Linked DNA regions of Homo sapiens. The protein of the gene in region 2 interacts with the protein of the main gene of each other region in a pairwise test. Each region holds a gene or a part of one and is shown on either strand. Other genes may lie near its edges.

Region 1 (7,000 bases), about 17 Mb from region 2:
AAGCTTTCAAAGGGAGAAAATTACTTCACCGAAGATTACAGTCCAGCCCTCCTCTGGAGCTGGGAGGTACTTATTTTGACTTGCATGTGATTCTAAGACAGCCCATTTTTTGGCAGTGAGCTGTGTGAGGCCCAAACCAGGGCCATTCTGATTATGGGGTGGGGCAAGCCAGAGAGCTAAGCAGCAGGCTTTTTTCTTTTTTTCCCTTCCAAAGCTGTTGTGACACATATTGAAAATTAATTATCTGAAGACAAAGTACAAAGCAAAACCTCCCAACCAATGGTCTTATACATGAAAGCTAAATGTATAAAATCCAAGAGAGTGGGGAGCGTGCATTAATTGGATATATGTGATGATGATAATGATGATGATAATGATGATGGTGATGGTGATGATGAGGGTAGCTAGCATCTATTAGGTGCTTTCTATGTGCTATACACAGTGCTAAGAGCTTCACATATATCACTTTATTTAGTTCACATAATAACCCTATGAGGTGGACACTATTTTTATCCTTATTTTTCAAATGAAGAAAATAAGATAGAGAATAATTATAAAATCACAGCAGTGTCACATAGCCAGGAAGTGGTGGAGCCAGATGCTGAACTCAAACAATGTTGTTCCAGAACCTAGATATTTTTTTTAAGCTGAATTTTAAGCTGATTACTCAGTGTCTGTCTCTGCGCTAGATACTCAACATAAACTATCTCAGTTACCATTATGGAGAATATAAGCCCCTTCTAGCAGATGAAGAAACCAAGACTCAAATTTTGGTTCTTGCCCAAGATTTCCCACTATTAAGTAGCTGAGTTAGGATTTAAACTCAAGTCCAAATCCTGAGTTCTTCCCACACTACTATGCTATGTCCATTTACAGCTCAGCTGTGGCTTGGGGTACTGGACAGAGCATTAAATGTGGAACAGACCAAAGCCCCATGAAACAGTTTGGCTTGTAGGATTGTCTCAAGCTGAACAGGTTCATAAAGATGAGGGTTTAATACATTGATCTGCAAATGGTGTAAGTCATCTTTGTTTTCTAGAAGAACTTCAATTTTAGGATGATGTTTGCTGTTATCCTGATGAATGGCTCTTGTCACCTCTAGTTTATTCACCAAATTTTTCAAGGCAAGGTTGAGCACGTGAAATACAACTTAGGCGGGGGGTAAAATACCTCGTGGGGAATCATCCCAAGGAGTCTGCCTATAGTCCCCAACTTTTCTTTTTCCTGAAACATTGACTTTGCTTTCAATATATCAACTCCCGAAGTAGCTTTGCAAGAGTGAACTTCTAAGTGAATCGTAGGTGGTTTTGCATGGCATGACATATTATTATGTGCTATTGCACTGATACAAAATGTGGCAACCTACACAGTGTGTTAGGTTCTTTAATAAAAATACCTGTTAACAAAATACACTTTCAAAATACCATATTAGCTTTCAGTAACTGTCTAACTTACGTGTGGGCTAAGACTAATTCTGAGGTAGCCTCAGAATCCATTTATGAGGTAGCCTCCGAATCCATTTATGAGTGGAGAAAACTGTTTACCATTTTAATGGTTTTGACCATGCTGTTCAGAACTTAAAAAAGGAGCCTTTTGGGAATGGCCTTGCAGTCCTGTGTGTTTATAGAAAACTAAGAAGGTATCTGAAAATTGAACACGTTTGTCAAGAAGTGACCTTAGAAATCATGTCTGGGTAACAAGGTGTACTTCTGTCTCCTAAGAAGGTTTGCTTCATCAGCTCCTCTTTCTTTCGATCAAATCAGATGTATTGAAATTCAAGTGCCAAAAGCCACTTCTAGTAAATGTAAGTACATCTCTCTCAAAGTAGCTGCTGATGGAATCTGAAGTGATTTGGTGGCAATCCACATGCTGCAGCACAGGTGCAAACAGCACAGCCTCAGAAGTGAGTGCTACACATCTCTGGGCTTTGAATTTCACATCAGAAAGGATGCAGGGTGCAGGGTCCTTTCTGGCTAGACGAAAAGGGCTTCCTCTGATCTTACATCTCGATCAATCTTATTTCAAGCACTGCTTGTTTTTGCTTCTTAGTCTGGCTTCTCTGTGTGTTTGATTGGTGACCTCTTTAGATCTGCAGACTGTAGGCAAATGCAGTGACATTTTGCTTAAAAGATTAAAGCATCTGGACCATGGCTCACTGAGAAATTATCAGGGTGGGCAGAATGTGTCCATCTCAAAATGTTGATGCTTCCAGAAACTAAATGCATGCTAAGTAGCATGGACCATGCCTCATTCTATCACCACCAACCACGCAGAACATATTATTAATAAAATAATATGATCAGTTCCCACTTCTCACCCCTACCCCTACCTCCCAGGATATGTCAAAGGTCATGCATCCATGAGAAAAGGCAAAGTAGAACGTAGACACCAGGCAAAGGGACATGGTGCAGACACTGGTGATATAGCTCAGGCAAGAAGAAATAGTGCAAACATCAGGAATACAGTTCAGGGAAGGAGCGATGGTGCAAACATCAGCAATACAGCTCAGGCAAGGAGACATGGTGCAAACATTGAGGATGTGGCTTCAGAAGTGAAGAACAACCAAAAGGGAAAGCAGATAGCTTAAGGGTAAAGGAGATAAAAAGGACAGATACCTACCCAGACCTGCGCTATCTAGCTACCGGCCTGTGGACTTATATTATCACCACTGGGCTCCCCACTGGGCTCACCAAATGGATCACTGTTGGATGAGGCCTGTGATCCATCAGGCTAGAACACAAGAAGATAATACTTTTTTTTTTCTCTCTTTTCAAGCATTGAAAATATAAGACACCTGGATATACTTTCATGCAGCACAATCAGTTATTGTAAAGGAGGGTGCAACGGCATTTAGAGGATGCTACACCACAAATGTGGACTTGTAGTAACAATTTAATAAAAAGGCAGTCCTTTTCAGCTGACTCATTTGAACACAAAAGAAAGCCCCTTTAGCAACCCCTTGAGAACTTATGAGATTGAGCCAGCATTCTTTTCTATGTAGGCTTCCTCATGCATTATCCATTTCAGTTACAGAGGTCTTAATTTTAAGGAAAAACACAAACAAATAACAAACTGGTCACTTACAGCTTCTTGCTCTTCGCTTTTGCTGGGACTTTCAAAGCCCTCTTCAAAGATGTCATCTGTGGTAGGATCACTGGCATGGGATGCAGATGATTTGGATGGAGAGCTCTGTCTAGGGGCTGGGGTTGGAGCTACACAGAGACCACAGAAAAAGAGACATCTTAAGTGCCTGGCTGCCATGAATGTATCCCAAAGAAACCTCAGGAATCTGCTTATATTGAAGTCAAATCTTAGGATTCCTCTTCCTATTTCCAGTGGAATCAGTTGAATATTTGAATTCTCTCTCTGTACGTATTGATCTTTCCTCTCACACATCTGACTTCAGGAAGGAGCTCGTCCACACTGATAGGTAAGGCAGTGGTTCTCAAAGGATGGTCCTTGGACAAGCAGCAGCAGTAGCATCTGGGAATTTGTTAGAAATGAAATTTTCTGACCCTACCCCAGATCTACTGAATCACAGACTCTGTGTTTGAACAACCTGCTACAGGTTATTCTGATGCATGATCAAGCTGAGAACTACTGGGCTATGGTTTGCTTTCTTCTTTCTGTGTTTCATCAGAGGGCACGTTATTGAGCGCCTTTCATGTGTCAAACACTGTTAGAAACTTTACAGACAATATCTCTAATCCTCATAAAACATCTTTGAGGTAGAGGTTATCCTAATTTGACAGGTAAGGAAAGTGAAGTTTGCTAATTTGCTCATGGCAACTGGTAGAACCAGATTCTGAATCCTGGCACATAGGAGGTATTCAATAAACACATGTTGAATAAAGAGAAAGTGTCTCAGTGATCTGGGAAAATGGATGTAGCTGATGGCAACTTCACAGCTGGTACTTGATTCTATAAGGACAAAGGATACGCATTTTCTGGGCTGACCCACCCACATCTCCTCTCATTTGTTTTAGAGGTTTAGAACAAATATGCCATTTGATACCACTCTTCTTTTAATAAATTCTAATTTGTCACTGAAAATACTGGTTACTGGCTAAGACCCAAGTGAGAGGGTGGCATGACTTCATTTAGCAGCTGAATTTTCCTAATGTTATAGAACTTAGAAATCAGACAGTGAATGATTGTAAAACTTAGTGCATACTTTTTACTCTGATGAATCTATATATAGAAAGATGATGCTATTTCCTAACTTATTATTTATAATGTGCCAATGAGTTGGACACTGTGCTAGGCACTTCCCATTCATTATACACCTTAATATAAATACCTGCAAGTTGTTATCATAACTTTTTTGTTTCCCAGATGGAGAAATTGCAGCTCAGGGAGGTGAGGTGTCTTGCGAAGGGTTAACACAGCTATGAAATAGCAGCACTGGCATTTAACAGAGCTCTGTCTGACACTATCCAGTCCAACTGTGCTTTTCTGTTTCTATTTGAGGTTCACTTTTGATCCAACCAATCCTCTTCCCAAAACATTCTTAAGGGGATACTGATGGGTCAGAGGATATAAAGACTGGTTCTAATTTTGTTCAAAATAAAACAGCAAGTTTTTGGAAAAAAATTTGCAATGAAATCTGTTTTGTTTCAGGAGATGACTATGGAACAAACTGTATTGAAAGTGGGTTTAAAGCTATATGCAAACACCCTGAAGGGTAGTAGATGTTTAATAAATATTAGCTTAATTAGATCCTGAATTGTATTTGAAGTGGATTTTTGCTTACTAAAGGTTGAGAACACAAGCTGAGTTGCCAGTTCTGGCAGGTATACTGCTCAGACTTACCTAATGAAATCAATGGAAAGCATAAGCAGGAGTTTATTTATGCAGGTGTCTTAATCTTTAGAAGGCTTTATAGGATGCTGCTAATACTCTAAAGCAGTGGTTCTCAGTCTGGGGCAATTTCATCCCTGGGGTACATTTGGCAATGCTTGGAGTCATTTTTCTCGACACTAGAGGAAGGGGATATACGTTTCTCTCATAGAGTGATTAGAGGCCAGCGTTGCTGCTAAACATCCTACAATGGGACAGCCTCTGAAACAAAGAATTATCTGGCCCAACATGTCCATAGTGCCGAGGTTGCCAACGATGCTCTAAAACATAACAGTAGCTAAGTCATCTCCATTTTGTTTATTTCATTCTCTATAACCTTTCCCAAATGCCTCTCATGTCCCAGGCACTAAGCTAGCATTATGAGAAGTGTAGGAATGATGGAGCCAGTTCCTGCCCTCAAAGAACTTAAACTCTCCTCTTTCATTTGTAGCTGGCACACAAGTCCATTGAAAGAGAGATGTTTGTTTTTAAAAAGATGCTTGCTTATTTATGCATGGCTGTCATTTCTTTAACATTTCATTTTTTATTCATTATTCCTCATTGAAACCCTGTGAGTCTGCATAAATAGAGATGCTGCCACTATGTAGATCATATGGCCTGAGTGCAAGTGGGTTGTTTATACACGTTAAGGGCATTCATTTTCAGAATAGCATTCTGAACCTGGCTGAAATGGCACAATCTAATTGTATTAACATTAGGGGTGTTTTTTTTTGACAGTTCACAGTATTGGCCATGCAGTGATCCATATCACCTGTGACAGTAATGAAACCGCCAAACTCACTGCAGCATGAGCCTTTTCTTTCCTCTTATCAGGTGTCAAGGCACAGGCTGAGTCATCAGAACACCTTCCCTGAATTGTGTCAAACAAGTGTACATGTGCTCAAGTGTATCTGGATTCTGATTTGGCTGCACAGTCACTGTTTTCCAGATGTTTGCAGAAGAAATATGAGCTGGAGGAGACTCACTGAAAGCTGGAACTAGAAGGATGCACACTGCTCATCCAAGCCAATTCACTTATTTTACCAATGATAAAACTGAGTCTCAGAGAAGTCATACGCTTGCCCAAAGACACAGCTTGTGGTGGAGGAGTCAACACCAGAACTCTGGTCCAGGACTGCAAAAAAACACTTAACATGTGCTAATAATGAGGATAAAAGATACTTCAAATTCTGGGAGTTCTATAATGTTTGAGCACATATACCATTGAATCCTTTTAATAACCCATCGCTTACACAGATGAGGAAACCAAGGCTCATAGAAATAAAGTGCTTTGCCAAAAGGCACAAAACTGGTCAGTAATAAATCTGATCTCCAGGTTCCCAGTCCAGAACTTTCTGCAGCACTATCTTTTTGTTCCCTTTAACTACCAGAAGCTTTAACCCAAAATGAGGCTTCAACTATAAAAGCTATTTAAGACCTTATGGCTGCGTATCTCTGCCCTAAGTTTTCTCTTGATCCTTATTTTATATTCTAATGTTTAAAACTTGTTCCCCAAATTTTTAAAGTTTGCATTCATTTTATTTCAATAAGCCACGCCAAAATCTGTGTGTCATAAGCTATCTATACGTAAATAAATGAACGAATGAATGAGCAAACAAACAAAATCTTAAGAGGCAGAGTAACATGGTGGAAAAATACCAGGCTTACATTCAATTCAATACCACTTTGTCTATTGTCTTCATCTTTGAGCCTCACTTTCATTATCTGTCAAACAGGTCTAACAAAATTTATCATTAAGCATTATTATAAGTCTAAAAATAAACATGGAACATATGAAGAAGGTTTGTATGTTATCAGTGGTATCTAAATTGGCAGCTCATAGTAGTATTACTAGTAATAATAATATAAACAAAGAAGCCTGATTAATGCAAGTGAGATGAGTTATTTGACTCCAGAAACCCCGCCTCCAGACATGAGTTACGGCTCTCATTGGGTTTTATGTCTTAAGTGAGGGGCACTCACGTGAGTTGGTCGATGGTGTGGTAGAAGTCACAGGGGTCAAATTCAACTGGGAGATGTCAAAGTCATCACAGTCGTCTGTATCCTGTGCCACCCCGACTTTGTTGAAGTAACTGGAGAAGGCCTCTGAGGTACAGGTGAGGGAGGGCTGGTCGGGTTTGCGGGAGGGCACGGGCGGAGG
Region 2 (6,475 bases):
TATCCTTCCCAAACTCTAAATGCTGATGGGTTCCAAGACTCAGTTCTCTTCTATTTTCTCAAGTGACTTCAACCGGTCTCATAGCTTTACATAACACCCGTACCCTCATGATTCCCAAACTGATGCCCCCAAACTATTTCCAACTCTTTCCAGATCTCTACGGACTGGCTGCTTATTTAGGTCTCAGTCCAAATGTAACCTTCTCCTGACCACTCCATCCAAATGGCCCCGTGCCCACTCTCTCCCCTTGTCTTATACTGTCTGAATTAAATCTATTTGTTTATTATGCATTTCTCCTACCACACTATCCTATGAGATTGGACAGTTTTTATTCACTGCTTTGTCTCTAGAGCCTAAAACATTCTTTGGCACATTACTGACACTTATTAAATGTTTGTCAAATGAGCTACTGCCTAACACAGATCTGGCACGTAATACCTGCTAATATCTGAGTGCTTAGTAAGTGCCCAGTAGTGTGCTAAATATACCACAGGAACTGCTTCTTACTATCCTAAGTATTACCATTGTCCCCATTTTACCTGGACACAGGAGTTCAGTAATTTGCTCAGGTCCCAGCGTAGGAAGGGATAGGAACACTGGCAGCCTGACCCAGAGCCAACTTTCCTAGTCACTGTGCTGTCCTCCCACTTACATCTTTAAGGACTCAAAGGGTGTACTCAAAGGAAAGAAGGGAGGAAGGGTCCAAGGATCACATTTGTTGAGAGCAGAAAAGGAGTCAAAGGGAGCAGGAAATGCACTAAAGATGGTCTTCGGCCTTTTGTATTTCGTACTGCCCCCAGGATTGAGTGTCCTAATTCCTGACACTGATACGGAAGGTCCAGTTCTGATAGCTCAGAGAGGGGTGAGTTACCTTTACCAGCCAAAGCTACTGCTCTCTTGGCAGAGAGGAATTTCAACTCACTACTTAATTGCCATGGTATAGGGAAAGAACAAGGGGCTGGAAATCCAGACACTTGGAGGCTACTGCCGGTTCTGCCCAGGGTTCTCTAGTGGACATTTGCCAACCATGTCCTTTCTCCGTGTCTCAGTTTCTCCACCTGTGGGGGGAAAGCATGCCGCTCTGATGCTCTGTGACTCTAGAAGGTGCTGATCTCTGGAGTTCTCTCAGCTCACAGCTCTAGATGCCAGTGGAGAGAGGCCCCCTTTCTGACTGCTGGAGCCTGGGCCTCACCCTTGGGTATGAGAAGTACAGAATTTTCTAAAATACAGGAAGTGAAACAATTGCCTTTGGAAAACAGAAAACCTAAGTGTAACGCACCCTCCTCCAAGAGTGACGCACAGTAATGGCCAAGCAAACAGTCCTTCCCTGCAATATTTATTAAGGAATTTACACATACACAGGAGAAAGGCAGCCAGGAACTGTGGTTCCCACACATGAAATCTTTTAAGCAAAGTTTTCTTGTCTGAATTTTCAAGTGGGGTGAACAATGACTGAGAGGAAAGCTGTCCCGGCCCTCTGCCTCGTACACCTGGGAACGGTGGGGAAACAGAGCACCCTGGATACACAGGCATGAAAGAGTGATCAGCAGACCGGGAGAAGGGAAGGGAGAAAGGGAGTTATCAATGACATGGCGTTTTTTAAACCATAAGAAAAACACAACAGTTTTAGGCTGCTGATAAATTAATTCCTCTCTGTTGTAAACCTAAAACTAAACAAAAACAAAAATACCCAGAGCAGATGGGGAGAGGGTGGGAGGCGGAACACACACTCATACACACACACACACTCACGCACACACACAAGCAGTACACGTTAAGCTCTGCATTCCCACTATAGGGGTTGGTCCTCCAGCCACGGAGCCAGATCCTACTGAAGGCAGGGGGGAGGCGGGAAGGGATGTGTGTCTGTGTGTGGGATCTTCATAAAGTCTTTGGTGCTAATAAAGGCTGACTGAAGCAGCAAGTCCTGAAGCCCCAGATCCAGAAAGCAACTCAGGGCGAAGAGAGTAGTATTTTTGCTCATCCTCATAGGAGGGGGCTTGCCTCACCCCAGGGCTAGGGTCAAACTGACCCAGGACCCAGGGAGTATTTAATTTGATTTCAGTACTTGCTTCATTCCCATAAATCATGAGAACATGATGCTTTTCAAATTTAAACACTTAGAAACAGCTTATTAACACATATAGAAGGACCTCTAAGCTTTCCCCTGTTTGCCTAATATACAACACCCACAGACCCTTCTGAGAGTCTGACAGGAGCTTTAACCTTGAGGGAAGGGACTCAAAGGTGTGCACACTTCTCCCACAGTTTAAGTGCCTTCTGCCAACAACTTCTAAGGTGCTGGTGCCAGGAGAGGACTGGGGAGGACGTTGGGATGGCTATGGGGCATGTACAACATAAAGCAACAGAGAGGTCTTCATGTTTGGGAAGTGGCTGGGCAGGATGCCAAACCCCAAATGACTTATTGAGCAATTTCTAAACCAAACAGAGAGGTAGGAAAAGAGGATGGGGGTCAGGGGTGGAGGCTGTGGAAAGGGGAGAGCGAGGGCTGAAGAGAATGGCAGCCATACAGGTGTTTTGTTTTTATTTCCACATCTGAGGACTGAGAGTCTGATTTGCTGCCTGTCCATTTCCGCCACTCATTGACTGTCCATAGTTCATCATGCCATTGGCTCCATAGAAGTTCATCCCAGCCATCTGCTGGGTCATCTGAAAGGGAGAGAGGAGACTTTCAGACCAGGCTGTGGGCATTCCGCCAATTAGTGCAAAAGGCAGGGTGAGAGTCCCTTTCTCTGCCAGGATGGGGAGAATGAGACAAAGGGAAACTCTGTTATGGACAGTAAACCCTGGACCTTAGCAGTCAGATCATTTCAAGGCCACGTACGTGAATGACCTTTTGGGAGTGCAATGCTGACGGAGACTAAAGCTCAGGGAGGGAAAGAAGGCATCCTGGCATCTGGATCTAGTCGACAGAAAATCAGCATGAGTTCCTCTCTTTTTCCTTTCCAGTCCCTCATCCTAAATAGAAGGGGCCTATTGTTAACTTGCCTGGCCAATCCTAAAAGCTGAAAGGAAAGCCCCCTCCCCAGTGCTCCCGCCTCATCTTCAGCACAGCTATTACTGTCAGTGTCAGGGAAAGCGCTTGAGCAGGCTTGCTCGTTTGCACAAGGGGGAAAAAAAGGAACTGGACTGTTCAGAATGAACAAAGGCGGTGGCGGGGCGGGGGCGGGGGAAGACTAATGTGTCTTCAGTGTATAAGAAGGGAAGGAGCTGGGAGAAAACAGTCAGTGGAATAAGGCCTGGGGCAGGATGGGGCGGGGGTCCTTCATGAATCTGATGGAAAGACTGGCCCCTAGCAGTGAACAGAAAAATACTTTATGGAGAAAAATGCCTTGAATTTCCTAAGCCTAGTAAATTTTCTATATAAGTTATTTTTCTTTAGGAGAAACTATTATTTTCTTGTACCAACTTTTAAAGTAAATTTCAAACTGACATAAAAGTTGAAACAATAGTACAATAAAACCCATGTATCTTCTTCCTTAAATTCACCAACTGTTAACATTTGCCATATTTTCTCTCCCTCCCTATAAAAAAACTTACATTTTTTTGATGAGTATCAAAAGTTGCAGATTAAAAAAAAAAAAAAGCTGCAGCTATCACGACATTTCATTCCTAAGTCAGGAGGCACCTCATAAGAATGAACACTTTAACAGAACCACAAAACAATGAACACGCTCAAGAATTTTAACATTAACACCATATTCTAATGTACATGGCATTTCATTTTCAGATCTCTGTAGTCTCCTTTAAGCTAGACCAGTTTCCCTAACACTTCCTTCCATTTCTTCCTGACACTGACATTTTTAAGAACCCAGGACAGTTATTTTGTAGCATACCCCTCAATTTGGATTCATCTCATGTTTTCTCATAATTGGATCGAGGTTCAATATTTTTGGCAAGATTCTATGGAGGTGACACATGTCTTTCTTAGTACAAAATATCAGGAAGCATATGACATTACTTTGTTCCTCTGTCAGTAATTTTATGTTTGATCACTTGGCTGAGGTAGTGACTATATTTCTTTCATTATAATTAATAAATAATCTGAAGGGCATTTCTTTGCAAATGTGTCAATCCTTTGCTCTTTTTACAACTACTGTCATTCTTCTGTAAAGAAGGCTTTTCCTCCCTCCATTCCACACCTGGTTTTTAAAAAATATCACCGTGGACTCATGGTTTTGTTTTGTTTTTTCCATTCAGTGTGTCATAATCCATTACTGTTGTTACTCTTTTTGATGTTCAAATTGTCTCACATTTGGCCAGTCAGAGCCACTGGAAGTTGGCTCATGCGTCCCTCTGACATATTCCCATCAGACTTATAGCATTCCATTACTTATATAAATAAAAACGAAACAATGAAAATAAGTGAATTAAAATCTCCACTATGAAAGCTAGAAAATAACAAAGTAAACCCATAGAAAGCCTACGGAAATTGAGGTAGAAAACGGAAAAATGTAGCACCAATAAATCGAAATCCTGGTTCTTTGAAAAAAATTAATGAGACTGCTAGGCATAACTTTTGATAAATTTGAAAACCTTGGCGAAATGGAAAATCTAGGTAAATACAGTTTTCCAAAATTGACTTCCATAGAAGAAACAGAGAAAAGTATCAAAGATTTGCTACAAAAAAAGCAATAGTGCCCACAAACTTCACATGGGAATTCCACAAAACCTTCAAAGACCAGAGCTACATAAATTATTCTGGACCACAGAGAAACAAAAACATAAAAGTACTTCTTATAAATAAGTATAACCCTGATAAAGATAGCTATACATGCACATGTGCAGTACACATGCACCATACCACCTCTCTGGGGTTCCTTTGCCTGTCTCTTGGTTTTCACATTAAATCACTTTGTATTTCTTTGTACCTAGTGCAAAACTAGTGTTGCTTTGTTAGCCAATTTGAACATCATTTTCTTTTGATAGAAGAGTTGCCTACTGGTATGACTGGTATGTTTGGTCTCAACTCCATCATATTAGATTTTTACTGTGTTTATTGTATTTGCTGCACTTTGTAGTCTGTTTTTAAAAATTCTCAGCTGGGCGCAGTGGCTCATGCCTGTAATCCCAGCACTTTGGGAGGCCAAGGTGGGTGGATCACCTGAGGTCAGGAGTTTGAGACTAGCCTGGCCAACATGGTGAAACCCCGTCTCTACTAAAAAATACAAAAAAAATTAACCGGGTGTGGTGGCGGGTGCCTGTAATCCCAGCTACTCGGGAGGCTGACGCAGAAGAATCACTTGAACCCAGGAGGCGGAGGTTGCAGTGAGCCGAGATTGTGCCACTGCATTCCAGCCTGGGTGACAGAGTGAGACTTTGTCTCAAAAAAAAAAAAAAAAAAGAAAGGAAGAAAATTATCTTGGTATTCAGAACATTTCACGTGTTTGTTCTAGTGATTACCTTCATAGTAATACTTTTTAGCAATGTCCTTGGTCTCCTTTTTCCTTATTCAAGCTTCCGTGATTTGGTTTGTCAGCTTATTGCATCCTTCGATTTCTACTTCTTTCCCATACAATATTTATTATTCAACTTTTCTCCCTCCTCCTTCATTTTCAGTTGTATTTGTTTGTCAGAATATAATGTATATTCTGCAACGCTTGTCACCACCTTTGTTTTAGTCTTAGATTCTCAATTAAACATTCAATTCTCACCATCAGTTCTTTTGCCAAAAATGAAAATGACCCCAGTCATCTCTTAGGTGGATGAAGCTTATCTTCTGTTAGATTCCCCAGGAAAGTCTTGTAAGTGTGATATTCTCTGAGTTCTTGCATATTTATTTTTTACAGCCTTGATACCTGAAGGATAGCTTGGCTGGCTTGGTTGTAAAATACTTGTTGTGTCTTGCATACACTTGAGTGTCTTTAAAATACTACTCTCCTTGTTATTCTTTTTGTATTTTGCTGCTAGGAAGTCTGATGTCAACCTGGGTATTTTTTGTTTGTTCTAAGTAACAGATTTTTGTGGGTAGGAGGTATGGAAAAGGTTGGACCCCTAAACATTTTGAATGTTCTTTAAAGTCTGTAGATTTGCTGGGATATGTTTTAAAGTTGACTGTTCTGGGTCAATTTTCCCAGACACACAGTGGGCTCTTTCCATATTATATCCAAGTCTTTTATTTCTAGAATGTTTTCTGGTGTTAAACACATTAATACTGTCCCATATTTTATTTATTTTGTCTTTATTTCTTTGGGCATCTCCAAATATATGTAAGTTTTCTTTGCCTAACTTCCATATTAATTTCCATCTAATTCTTTTTACTACTTTCTATATTTAGTTTTCATTCTCTTAGCTGTTTCATGCCTTTCCTCAATGCCGAATATATTTTCAGCTCAATCTATTGTTCTTTAGCTAACTTGTAATTGAGTCTTTATACGAAAATTTTGGCTTTTTCTTCAATTTCTTTTCTGAGTTTAGTAAACTTTCATTTCACAGCATGCAGTTTTTTATCCAT
Region 3 (7,577 bases), on a different chromosome or scaffold from region 2:
TCTTGATTGCTGTGGTGTTTGTAGAGACTTCCACATGTGATAAGGTGATATAGAACTATATACACATATTGTACCAATGTCAGTGTCTTGGTTTTGATTTTGTACTGCAGTTACACAGATGTAACCATTGGGGAAGCAGATAAAGGGTACATAGAACCTCACTGTACTATCCTCGCAATTCCCTGTGTATCTGTAATTATTTCAAAATAAAAAGTTTAAAAAGTTTTTTAAAAGCAGAATTAATAAAATATTACCTAAAAGCAGTAGGGCATCAGTTATATTTCAAAAATCATGTCATAGGGCCGGGCATGGTGGCTCATGCCTGTAATCCTAACACTTTGGGAGGCTGAGGTGGGTGGATCACCTGAGGTCAGGAGTTCTACACCAGCCTGGCCAACATGGTGAAACCCCATCTCTCCTGAAAATAGAAAAATTATCCGGGCGTGGTGGTGGGTGCCTGTAATCCCAGTTACTCGGGAGGCTCTAGCAGGAGAATCACTTGAACCTGGGAGGTGGAGGTTGTAGTGAGCTGAGATCATGCCACTGCACTCCAGCCTGAGTGAAAGAGTGAGACTCTGTCTCAAAAAAAAAAAAAAAAAAAAAAAAAGCCATATGTATTAGCTGGTTGGATACCATTGCTGCCGCTACTGAACAGTGGACACCGGATGTTAGCCCTGCCACTAATGCTGCCCCTAGAAACTGGATTTTCTTGTGGCTGCTGCTCCCACCACCACAACTATGGTGGTGAATTCCATCACTGCATATTTGAATCACTCCTTTGAAACAAAGTGTTAGGTCTAAGTTGTAACTGCAGTGAAAGGGTTGTACTCAGCAGGTCTGCAATGTTCAAACCCTATGCTTTCCAAAAAAAGGTCTTTTGCAAAGAATGCTTTGGCTCTTGACCAGCTCTTGGGAGATAATCTGTAAGCCCTTGGAAGTATCCTGCCTGATCAGAGTGTCTTTGTTTACTGTGGCCTTGGCCCACACTGGATAGTTTGTGCTAACAGTGTGATTTGTGGTGTGAGCCTTGGGCTGAGAGATACTAGTTTAACCTCTGCATGGACTAGAGACTGAATAACTAAGGTCAACCACACAGGTGCTCCATGCCTATCTGACTGAACCCCAAAAACAACTCTGGGCACCAAGGCTTGGGTGAACTTCCCTGGTTGACAGTATTTCATACATGTTTTCACACATCATTGTTGGGGGAATTAAGCACTGGCCATACAACTCCATTGGGAGAGTACAACTGAAAAGTCGTGCCTGGTCTCTCCTGAATTTTTCCCTATGCACTTTTTACTTTTGCTGATTTTAATCTGTATCCTTTCACTGTAATAAACAATAGCCATAACACTTTTTCTGAGTTCTCCGAATCCTTCTAGCAAATCATTGAATCTGAGGATGGTCTTCAGGAGCTTGCCACACTGGTAAATCCTAGATCACATTCTCTTAGCTGCCAAGGGCATGTGAAGAAGTGAATATCTGGCCTTTGTGGCTTTTGCACTTGGAACTGTTAAGTAAGAATATATATGACCTTACTAAAATGTTAAAAATCGAAATACATCTGGCCCCAAGGGTTTTCAGTAAGGATCTATAACGCTATATAAAGAACTCCTAAAAGTCAGTAAGACAGACAACCCAAATGAAAAACAGGTAAAATATACAAGCATATTACAAAATAAATCTAATATGTTCATTAATGTATAAAAATGTGTTCTACCACATTGCTTATCAGAAATATAAATTAAAACCATAAGGAGATACCAATAAATACACATAAGATTGGCAAAAAAAAAAAAAAAAAGGAAAAGTCTTGTAGAGTATGTCAGTCTTACTCCTGGGCTTCTGGTGTCACGGAAATAAAGACAAACATTAATTATTAAAGTATAAGAATACATGTACAAGTATTTTTATTGCAATGTTGTTGTATTGCCACGCTCCCCACAAAAATCCTGAAACTAAAATGGATTCCATCCATGGGGGAATGGTTAAATACATTGTGGTACATTCTTACCATGGAATATTATGCAGTCATTTAAAAGAACGAATCACAGGTAGACTGTTGTCAAATAAGATAATTCAGACACATAAAAGTTCATGTAATCTTAAATTTGTAAAAATAAAAAACAACTTTTGAGTATGGAAGGATATCAAATGGTGTTAAAAACAAGTGTTTGGCAGGTGAAGGTAGAATTGAAAGGAAGTGGGAAGCAGTAAGGAAAAGAATGCAATTTAAGGTCTGGCATATATAACACATCATTTATGTAACAACATATATGTGTGTAAAGTATGAAAAGGTAGCACCAAATCTAAGCAATTGTCCAAGGTGATGAGATTTAGTGATGTTTATTTAATTTCTAAAATATTTAGGCAGTGTTTGAATGTATAGTGATGAGTGTGCATTATTTGTATAATGAGGAAAAATAAGTGAATTGATCACAGGAAAAATTGCCTCTCAGGTTTCTTGCTTTAGCAATGGGATGGAGAGTGCGATTCATTCATTTAACAAATATTTATTGAGGATATAAAAATGTGCCAGGCATGGTTCTAGGTGCTGGGGAAACAACAATGAATAAAACAAAAATCTGTCTCCCTAAGAGGTTTACACTCTAAATGGGGGAGAAAGGCATAACTAGAGGAGAAACACTGTGTTGGTGGGAAGGAGGAGGCGTATGAAGGAATCGGTTTGGGACCTGTTAATTTAGAGAATACTGAGAGATATCCATTTGGAGAAGTGAGGTAGGTAGTTACTATGGATCTAGAATTCATAGGCCAAGTCATGACCGAAGATACAGATATGGAAACAGATAGCATAGAAAATGGTGTTTCTGACCTCCTTTCCTGAGTCTGATCACGTCTCACTGCAGACACTTTACAGAGGAAGTGCTGAGGAAAAACAGGCAGCTGACAGAGGAGGTTGCTATGCAACAGATGAGGAAAGTCATCCAGCCAGGCAGAACTGATGTTGGCCCTTGGGGACCAAATGCTGCAGTCCTTCCTAGCATTAGCTTCCTTTCATGTTCAGGCTTCTGGCATGAGTTGATGCCAGAACAAATGTGAACTGCACAAAGATCTGTCTTGAATTTTGGAACTGTACCAGTTTAATTTGAGTCACCTCACATCTGTATTTAATTTTCTGCCTTTTTGAGTTTCTCCAGTTATCCTGGAAGCATAGCAGCGTGTGTGTCCTTGGGTAGGACCCACTTGCTGTGCATTCCACTTTGCACATTGAGAAACCAGGCCCAGAGAATTGAGTGACCCGTGCGGGCTCACACAGCTCGAGACAGACAGGCTGGGCACTCCATTCCTGGAATTCTGAAGCCCAGCCCAGTTTCTCTCCATAAAACCACAGCTGCCCCAGGCCCCAGCCCTGAAAGGAACCAGGGCTTGCCATGGCTCAGACACACAGGTCTGATTGTCCTGGCTGCTCCAGTGGGCACCAGGAAGGCCTCAGGGACAGTGTGATTGTATCCCTGATAAGGAAGAGGCCTGATGTTCTGAGCACAGAGTGGACCCCAAGGAGCAATTCCCACGCCTGGATGGACCCACACAGGGCAGGGGGAGGGTGGGGGCCTCTGCTTGTGTCCTCCTGAATGCAGAGCATGAGCTTGGGCCTCCTAGAACACAAACTTTGCTTGTTTGGTACAAATGGGGTGCCGTGGTCTGTTGCTCAAATGGAGGAGGGAGGGGTACCCTTAGTCCCCAGGCCAGCATGAGCAGAATGTGGGCTTTGGAGTCAGGAAGACCCAGACCCAAATTTTGCATTTTGTTTCCTGGCTCTGTGGCCTTGTCTAGTTCATGCAATGTATCTGTGCCTCAGCTTCCTGATCTGCAAAATAGGGGTGCTGACATCCACTTCCCAGGGCTGCTGTGACAGGAAGACAAGCCCCAGCACAAATCCTGCTGTGATGTACAAGCTGTGCCCTTCCCTCCTTTCCTCCCCCAACACACACAAAATGAGTCCATCACCGGAGCTGCAGAAAGAAAGGGAAGAAACTAACGTTCTTTCTGCGTCTGGGAGCTTGTGGGGGCGGGCAGGGGGTGAGGGAGAAATCATGGAGTCACGTGGCAGCCACAGACTTACTACTACTACTTTGTTAGCTCCAATAGTGTATCCTCTCAGGCCATTCCGTTTCCTCAGCAGAGGTCTAACACTTGTTGCAATTAGAGACCCCAAACAGAGACCTAAGCATGCTGGACAAGGGGGTGGAGATGCAAGCCGGCCTGACAGGAGGGGCCTTGAATAGGGGAGGGACGGAATAGAGACGCATTGCGGAAAAGGTAGGGGGCCGGTGTGTGGGGCAAGGGGTGGGACCAAGAGGCACAGCGCATCTGTGGGGGAGGGGGCGTAGAGGAAGGGGAGGTGCTGTTGTATAGTGTCGACCTGGTTGGTGGTGGGGTGGTGTGTTGGCAAAGGGGGCGGGACCGCCTTCCAGCGCACATGCGCATCATGGTCTCCAGGACGAAGCTTTTGTTGGGAAAGCAGGCGGGACTGACTTTGGCTCTTCAGTGTTTGCGCATGCGCGTAACGTCCTGAGGCGGTGGGTGGTATATTAGGCGAAGAGGCGGGGTCGCCCAAGCTGCCGCGCTGGCATTTTCTCCTGGACAAGGAGAGAGTGCGGCTGCTGAGAGCCGAGCCCAGCAATCCCGATCCTCTGAGTCGTGAAGAAGGGAGGCAGCGAGGGGGTTGGGGTTGGGGCCTGAGGCAAGGTGAGAATTAGCCCCCAGACTGGGCATCTGCCCCCTGGTGCGGGCCCCCATTTTTTTTTATCCCGATCCCTTCACCCTGGATTCTGAATCCCCTTCCACCCCCCAAACCCCAATTCAATGCCCCTCCCGATCCTTCCTGATTCAAAACCCCTGTCCGATCCCTCCCATCGTTCGAAATCCTCAGATTCCTTGACCTCGATCTGTACTGTTAGATGATTCCTCCTGACTCAAAACCTCCATGCAACTTCCCAAATGCGAATCCCAACCCAACCGCACCCCCGCTCCGAATTCAGAACTCATCTGCTTCCCGATCCCCATTTGAAGCTTCGCCCTGTCAGTAGCTTCTCGGGGTTCAGAACCTCCATCTGGACGCCCATTCACTTTTACCGCTCCGATCCGTTCCTCCTCACATTCACCTTATCCGCCCGCACAGTCAGACCACAGTCACCCCCCTCCCAATTAGGTCCTTCGTATTTGCCCTCTGTAGTATAACGCCCTGCCCCTCTCCCACAGCCCCCAGGCTCCGCTCTTGCCAGAGGGACAGGAGCCATGGCTCAGAAAATGGACTGTGGTGCGGGCCTCCTCGGCTTCCAGGTGAGATCTCCACTCCCCACCCCACCATTTCCCCAGCCGACAGTCACCCCTCCCCGCGGGCCTCTTTGGTCTCCCAAACGCCGGGATCCGGTTTGACCCTATTTAGTGACTAGACTCCGTGGGCTTTTCGAATTCCCATCGTTTATCGAAGGGGGGGAGGGGCGTCTCTTTTCAGCCATCAGTCCCTGCTCAGAGAGAGGGGAGACCCTGTTAGTAGTCAGGGCAATCTGCCCAGAGAATGCGGGGTGGGTAAGGAACCATTTTTTTTTTTTTCCAGAATCCTGACGCTTGTAGAGCAGTCTGTCACCCCCTCCCCCAGCCTCCTGCCTCCACCCTCCCTCTTTCTGCATTCCCCACTCTGTGCGACCCCCCTTATTCTCAACTCCGCGATCCGCCTGCCGTCCTGAGCTGCTACTGCACGCCTCTTGGAGCGTCCCCGGCTCCTGTTCGTGCCCACTTTCCGCATACCGCCCCACCCCTCATTTTGCCCTTGCCCTACTTCACCCCTGCCACATGTTTAGTACCCGCCTGGTCCCCCATCGCCCCTCGCGGGCCCCCTAGATCTCTGCCTCAGCCCCCCTGTTTTTGCACCCACCGCCCGCCTGCAGCTCCGCTGCTGCGCTGCCACCCGGGCTCCCTATTCCCACCCCACCTCCTGCCTCAGAGGCCCAGAGATTTAATTTTTTCCCCCCTGTGTTTGCAGGCTGAGGCCTCCGTAGAAGACAGCGCCTTGCTTATGCAGACCTTGATGGAGGCCATCCAGATCTCAGAGGCTCCACCTACTAACCAGGCCACCGCAGCTGCTAGTCCCCAGAGTTCACAGCCCCCAACTGCCAATGAGATGGCTGACATTCAGGTTTCAGCAGCTGCCGCTAGGCCTAAGTCAGCCTTTAAAGTCCAGAATGCCACCACAAAAGGCCCAAATGGTGTCTATGATTTCTCTCAGGCTCATAATGCCAAGGATGTGCCCAACACGCAGCCCAAGGCAGCCTTTAAGTCCCAAAATGCTACCCCAAAGGGTCCAAATGCTGCCTATGATTTTTCCCAGGCAGCAACCACTGGTGAGTTAGCTGCTAACAAGTCTGAGATGGCCTTCAAGGCCCAGAATGCCACTACTAAAGTGGGCCCAAATGCCACCTACAATTTCTCTCAGTCTCTCAATGCCAATGACCTGGCCAACAGCAGGCCTAAGACCCCTTTCAAGGCTTGGAATGATACCACTAAGGCCCCAACAGCTGATACCCAGACCCAGAATGTAAATCAGGCCAAAATGGCCACTTCCCAGGCTGACATAGAGACCGACCCAGGTATCTCTGAACCTGACGGTGCAACTGCACAGACATCAGCAGATGGTTCCCAGGCTCAGAATCTGGAGTCCCGGACAATAATTCGGGGCAAGAGGACCCGCAAGGTGAGATCTCTGCTAACTTCATTTTGCTTTGGGGCTGTCTCCTTTCTTCTCTGAGGGTGTTCATTTGTTCTAAACAAAACAATGTATGTAACTGTATTCAGCTAGGCTATAGGGCATTTGAAGAGAATGTTTATTCCTGTCCTCCGGATGTTCACAAACTGATGGGGAGATAATACATGGACACAAATAATATATACAACCTGTATGTAATTCAGTTTACATTTTGTTATGTTAGTAACCACCATGTGTTAAGCCTTGAGCTAGGCACATTCACACAGGTTGTCTCATTAAACCTTAAAGGCACCTCCTACCAGGTAGGGATCATAGTGCCAATTTTACAAAGAAGGAAATTAAGTGCCAGAGAGGTGAAGTGACTTGAGTGATTTGTTCAGGGTGGTACAGGCAGAACCAGTGGTGGACATAGGAAGAGGAGAAGCCTCAGGCCCCATCTTTGGGTTGCTCCTGGCCTGGCTCGGAGATGAAACTCCTGCCTGGAAGACAGTGAAAGACAAACCCAGGACTCAGGGTGACCAATGGCTAGTGGGTCAGGCTGTCACTACAGGTGAGGGTTTAGAGGGCATTCCTGGAATAGATAAGGTGAGGACACAGAACCCACTGGTGATTCTGAACTTCTCTCTGATGATGCAGATTAATAACTTGAATGTTGAAGAGAACAGCAGTGGGGATCAGAGGCGGGCCCCACTGGCTGCAGGGACCTGGAGGTCTGCACCAGTTCCAGTGACCACTCAGAACCCACCTGGCGCACCCCCCAATGTGCTCTGGCAGACGCCATTGGCTTGGCAGAACCCCTCAGGCTGGCAAAACCAGACAGCCAGGCAGACCCCACCAGCACGTCAGAGCC

What was found.
Region 1: the proteins of SMAP2 (region 2) and DAB1 interact in binary tests that used the Homo sapiens proteins (3 or more experiments, as listed by UniProt).
Region 3: the proteins of SMAP2 (region 2) and MAGED1 interact in binary tests that used the Homo sapiens proteins (3 or more experiments, as listed by UniProt).

The regions. Positions count from the first base shown.
Region 1 is NC_000001.11:57,008,061-57,015,060, forward strand, and holds part of DAB1 (disabled homolog 1), read right to left. Parts: coding exon 6,823-7,000; intron 6,638-6,822; exon of another isoform or gene 3,213-6,637; coding exon 3,085-3,212; exon of another isoform or gene 2,731-3,084; coding exon 2,635-2,730; 3' UTR 2,620-2,634; exon of another isoform or gene 1-2,619. UniProt on the Homo sapiens protein: Signaling adapter of the reelin-mediated signaling pathway, which regulates the migration and differentiation of postmitotic neurons during brain development.
Region 2 is NC_000001.11:40,418,171-40,424,645, reverse strand, and holds the end of SMAP2 (stromal membrane-associated protein 2), read right to left. Parts: intron 2,671-6,475; coding exon 2,545-2,670; 3' UTR 1,324-2,544; downstream 1-1,323.
Region 3 is NC_000023.11:51,889,046-51,896,622, forward strand, and holds the start of MAGED1 (melanoma-associated antigen D1), read left to right. Parts: upstream 1-4,577; 5' UTR 4,578-4,710; intron 4,711-5,223; 5' UTR 5,224-5,259; coding exon 5,260-5,304; intron 5,305-5,581; coding exon of another isoform or gene 5,582-5,749; intron 5,750-6,007; coding exon 6,008-6,715; intron 6,716-7,363; coding exon 7,364-7,577. UniProt on the Homo sapiens protein: Involved in the apoptotic response after nerve growth factor (NGF) binding in neuronal cells. Inhibits cell cycle progression, and facilitates NGFR-mediated apoptosis. May act as a regulator of the function of DLX family members.